Regions from separate parts of the Homo sapiens genome. Here region 1 is linked to region 2. The links come from fine-mapping of genetic effects on gene expression. A gene starts in region 2. The other region holds a variant in brackets. All regions are shown on one strand. Distances are between the middles of the regions. Region 1 overlaps NDUFA9 (NADH:ubiquinone oxidoreductase subunit A9). Region 2 holds the start of NDUFA9 (NADH:ubiquinone oxidoreductase subunit A9).

The links.
Region 1: its variant is fine-mapped to the expression of NDUFA9 in whole blood (TOPMed, PIP above 0.99).

The regions. Positions count from the first base shown.
Region 1 is chr12:4,669,725-4,672,757 of GRCh38, reverse strand. NDUFA9 (NADH:ubiquinone oxidoreductase subunit A9) reads right to left here. Exons shown (of 11, transcript NM_005002.5): 8 at 2,941-3,017. Among named protein-coding and RNA genes, the nearest start is that of NDUFA9, 22 kb to the right of the region's middle. The variant G/A (reference allele first, on the strand shown) is at 1,450.
Region 2 is chr12:4,647,763-4,650,262 of GRCh38, reverse strand. It overlaps NDUFA9 (NADH:ubiquinone oxidoreductase subunit A9), which reads right to left and starts at 1,149. Exons shown (of 11, transcript NM_005002.5): 1 at 1,088-1,149. The coding sequence starts at 1,136. It overlaps AKAP3 (A-kinase anchoring protein 3), which reads left to right and starts at 1,212. Exons shown (of 6, transcript NM_001278309.2): 1 at 1,212-1,518. RefSeq lists enhancers at 724-1,379, 1,248-1,457, 1,738-1,787.

The DNA.
Region 1 (3,033 bases), 22 kb before region 2:
GGTGGGGGTTTTATCTATAAGTCCCTGACTTGGGCTACTGCCTTTTTTTCAGAGATGCCTGGCCCAGAGAGGAGGGAATCTGGAGAGGCAGTCTGGCCACAGTGTCTTCCTGAGCTGCAGTGGGCTCTGCCCAGTTTGAACTTCCTGGTGGCTTTGTTTACTGTGAGGGGAAAACCACCTACTCAAATCTCAGCAATGGTGGACGCCCCTCCCTCCCAAGCTCATACGTCCCAGGTTGAACTCAGACTGCTGAGCTAGGAGCGAGAATTTCAAGCCAGTAGATCTTAGCTTGCTGGGCTCTGTGGGGGTGGGACCCGCTGAGCCAGATCACTTGGCTCCCTGGCTTCAGCCCACTTTCCAGGGGAGTGAAAGGTTCTGTCTCACTGGCGTTCCAGGTGCCACTGGGATATGGAAAAAAAACTCCTGCGGCTAGCCCAGTGTCTGCCCAAACGGCTGCCCAGTTTGGTGCTGGAAAACCAGGGCCCTGGTGGCATGGGCACCTTAGTGAATCTCCTGGTCTGCGGATTGCAAAGACCATGGGAAAAGCGCAGTATCTGGGCCAGAGTGCATGGTACAGTCCCTAATGGCTTCCCTTGGCTAGGAGAGGGAGTTCCCCGACCCCTTATGCTTCCCGGGTGAAGCGACACCCCACCCTGTTTTGGCTCACCCTCCTTGGGCTGCACCCACCGTCCAACCAGTCCCAATGAGATGAACCAGGCACCTCAGTTGGAAATGCAGAAATCACTCGCCTTCTGTGTCAATCTTGCTGGCAGCTGCAGACTGCAGCTGTTCCTATTCAGCCATCTTGCCACCAATCCTTGTTTTATAACTCTTACACTGAAGTCTCTGAATTATTTTAATTTTTTCATGTACAGAGCAAGGTAGGAGTCGAAGTTCATCTTTTTTTTAATGTGGATATCCCAAAACCATTTGTTGAAAAGACTATCCTTTCCCCTTTGAAATGCCATAGCACCTTTTTCAAAAATCAATTGTCCATAAAGATTTATTTCTGAACTATCAATTCTGGTTAATTCATCTATACGTCAATTCTTATGTCAGTACCATACTATCTTGATAATTATAGCTATTAGGTTTTGAAATTATGAAACTTAATGGTTTTGTCTATTGTGGGTCTTTGCATTACCATATAAATTTAGAATCAATTTATCAACTTCTGCAAAAAAGTCTGTTGGAATTTCGATAGAATTAAGTTGAATTTGTCAATCAATTTGAAGGAAATTATCATTTTAATCATACTGACTCATTCAATCCATGAACATGGTATGTCATTACTTATTAGGTATAATATAATAAATTTAATTGTTAAATTTATACTTAAATATTCTATTATTTTTTATGCTGCTGTGAATAAAATTCTTTTCTTAATTTTATTTTCACATTGTTCATTTACTAGTATATATTGATTTTTCTATGCTGATCTTATACATC[G/A]TGATTTTGCTGAATGTGTTTATTCATCATCACAGTTGTGTGTAATGTTGTATGAGTGTGTATCAATAGGTATTTTATGAATGAATGGCAAATAGAATGGACCAACATAATATAATTCATAATTACAAAAAACCTAGGAGGAAAATTATAGTCTTATGCCACTGCCTTAGCCTCAAAATATCAGAGAAAGAAGCAAAGTTTTTTCCTGGGGCTGAAGAGATGAGAAATGTGTAGATACCTATCTACAATTTCAAGAGGAAAAATATCTACACTGCAATGTCTAGTATTATTTTTCCCATCGTTACGCCAAACAAGAATGACTTACTGGAGCCCAGACAAAAGGATAATGGCTGGGCAAAGGTAAAAAGGAAAATGTGCAACTCATCCAGAGCTAGAGCAAGTAAAGTTCACAAAGCCATTTCCGCTCATTTATTCCCTGAAATCCTAGTCCATGTACCTCTTCACTGGAACTAATGTCTTTTGTGTAGTATTTTATGAAACCTGTATTGAATATATTGAATTGTAATTCTTATCTAGACTATATAACTGATTGCATGCTAATGTACCAAACTGGGAACTGAAAAGGAGAAATATATTTTGCAGCTGCTAGTTGACATGGAAAACCAAGACTTTCACACTGAAAAAAATTATGTATTAAATAATAATAGTGGAACATAACAATGTATAGATTCAGAATTCTGGGAGTATATTCTATGCCTCTTGGCTTAAAGAGAACAGTGTCATTTTCCTCTAGAGGCAAACATTTCTTATGAATTAGGCTATCCCTTAATTACTGAGCCAGATCCTTAACTTTCATAGATGTCAAGTGTCACTAGTTTGCTTCACAGAATCACAGGGTTATGAACCACTTACCAGGTGAATTTGATACCTCTCAACTTGGCAAATGAAGTCTTAGTTTTTGACTTTTAGTTAATTCAGCAAAAAAATTCCTAAGCTTAGCTGTCACATGATTTAGTAATTTCAGGTAAGCCACATAGCTTAACTGTACCCCTTTTTTCTGAAAGCAAATTTTAGCAAAGAGCATAAAAGAAATAATCAATCTCGCACAGCACTAGTAATTGTGCTATAAACCACCCGTTTTTCAGCCTCTGGAGGCATTGTGATACTCCATCAAAATTAATGTGGTTTTATAACCATACTTACTCCCTAAAAGTGTTTTGTTTGTGTTTTAGAATTTACAGCAATATCCTTTTATATATTAAAAACATCACTGGAGTAGTACAAAACCATCCCTAAGGGTCACTGGACTAAGTATATGTAATAGTCTAGGGCAGTGGTTCTCAGACCTTGGTAACAGAAGAATCATTCATTAAAGTAGATTCCAGGTTCCCTCAAATTCTGATTTAATGCAAGCAATGAGGAGATTTTGATATTGTAAAAGTGCAACAAATAAATCTGTTAGTAACTAATTTAGATATTGATTCCTTCATTATAATAGCACAATTTAAAATTCAAACTCTAAGCACTTACCCAACGAAAGCAAAGGATTTCCCATTGGCATCAGGATCCTTAACTGCATTAACAATTCCTTTGGATACATCTACGACCTGTAAGAAATTATAA
Region 2 (2,500 bases):
AGATGGAAAACAAAAAAAAAAGGATCCTCTAAACACTCCTAATTCTTGCCTCAGGCTGAACATCAAGCCTATCTGTGGTGCTTTTAAAAATTTAAGGTGCAAGGAGCTAATCTCACAAATTCTGACTCAATAGCTCTACACTCAGTCCTCATTTCTAATTTTTATAAAGCTTTACGAGTGATTCTGACATGAGCCAATTTTGAAAGCAAATGATATTCTGTAACGACTAAAATACACTAAGAAAAATACAACTTTGGGGGTTTGATTGGAATATGTTTGTGGAAGAGTAGAGGGTGAAAGGACAATGATGAAGTGTAACCGTATTTCTAATTTCCTTGCTTTTTAGTGAGTGGAAGGACAAATGTATGTTTTCAGTTTGAGGAGTGGGAGCAGATCCAATCAGAACAGAAGAGAAACTAAATAATGCTAACAAATTCTAACATAGCCTTCATTCTTCACTTTCCTTTCCACCAAGCTCCTGATTCTTCTCTCCTCAAACATCACTCTCTCCCCCAGACCCCAACGCACTTTGCCGAACACATTCTACATCCGTAGAGACGCTTTTGGGTAAAAGGATGCTTTTACAAATATTAGCTCATTTAATCTTATCAGAGACTCCCTGGTATTGTAATATTATCATTTCCATTGTGCTCATATGAATTGAGACCCATTAAGGGTTTGCACAAGGTCATAAAATCAATCTAAGAAAACCTCTCGCCACTAGCCTTTTTTCCCTCCCTTACACATTTCTCCCCCCGCCCCATACAAATATTTCTCATAACCCTAAACCCTTACAACCATATCAGAATTCTGATTCTCTCGATCCCTAACGTGTCCCCCGCATTCTCCTCTTCGCTTACAGCTGCTTAAGATCTTTTGTCCCCTCCCAAGGTGGTGCACAATTGAATATGTGAGCCGGGGAAGCGGAAAGCGAAAGGAGAAACCAGACTGAGGCAGCTCCAAACCTAGAGAAACCAGAGTGTGCCTAGGAAGTTGGCGTGACCGCTGCAGCACGGTGCCACTTCCAAAACCTTAAATCCCCGTCTCGGAATCCCGACCAGGGGCCGCCGTTCCCGGTAACACTTACGTGACATTGACAGGACCCGGACAACCCGGGATTGTGCGGCAGCCGCCATCTTTTCCCACAATCCCCCACGACAGCACTCCCGGCTGACTACGGCTGCTAAGCTGGGTCAAAACTTACCTTTCTCGCCTGTCTGCGCAAGCGCTAACCAAGAAACGACGGTTTCGGGTAGATTGTTGGTTAAGAAGAAAGCTGGGAAAGTGAAGGAGAGGGGGAAGAAAGGAAGTGAAAAGACTTTGGCTGTTGGAATCTCAGATCTGGAATAGGCTGTATAGGCTATTTATAATCTCTAATTGCCGAGGAACCTGAAGTTCAGAGTTAACCAGTGACTGACTCAGGACATGCAAAATGGCAAGACCCGAGGTAGAAGAGCTCACCTTTCCTGACTCTCAGTTTCCTGTTCCCTGAAAATGTAAGCTAAGCTGGCAGCCCTGGTGAGTCCGGAGGAAGAAGGAGGCGTAGCCCTCCGCGCTCAGGAGATCCAGGGCCCAGGAGAGAGAAAAGGGGGGACAAGAACGAGGGGAAAAGTGGAGAAGAGAAACCAAAATAGGGTGTGTCCCAAGTAAATAAATGTGCGTCGAGCCCGCCAAGCACATTCTCTCATAGGGACCCTTGCGCCTGCTGTTCGCGTTTCCTGGAATGCACACTCAGGTGTCTGCACCAGCTCAAGTCTCTGCTCAAAAGTGACCTCTTCGGATAAAACTTCTCTGACCATCCTATCCAAGGTGGTAATTATTCCACCAATTTTTGGTTTAAGTTTATATACCAAAGCACTTATCACCAACTAGCATATGAATCTAGGAGTTCTTAACCAGAAGTGTGATTCATGAGTGGGCTTCGGGAAATCTGTGAACTTCCTGAAATATTATGCAAATTTAGTGGCCATGTGTGCCATCTGAACATCTGTCTAAGGAGAAACTGCAGATGGCTCTCTCTAGCGCAATGGCTTGTAATTTTTTCTTTAACTGTGGTCACCTTTGAGAATCTGCATTGTTCTACAAAGAGCCATCTAGAAACTGAGGAAATTCCAGGTTAGACTAAGCGCTTGGATTTTAAAATACTTTATTCTGGTCAACCTCTCCAGATTGCTGGGTAGGAGATGGCAACCAGTGATCCTGTGAAACATACCTTAGGCTTATCAGAAAACCACCTAGTTTGGGGAGGGCGGGTTCTTTCTAGACTTGGTAATCCTTCCAGTGCTTTGTTTTTTCAGGAAAAGTATGTGTTTCTGGGATAGACAAAAAGGCCTGTGATGAGTAGGGATGTAGAAGTTGCTTATTACTAGGCTTGAAATCTTGGCTGTTTCCACTCTATCTTGCCCCTACTGTTTACTGAAGTGTCGCCTAACAAATTGAATTGGAAGAGAGAAAAAAACCTTGAATTTCATCGGAGAAGCTTAGTAGTAACGCTACACTG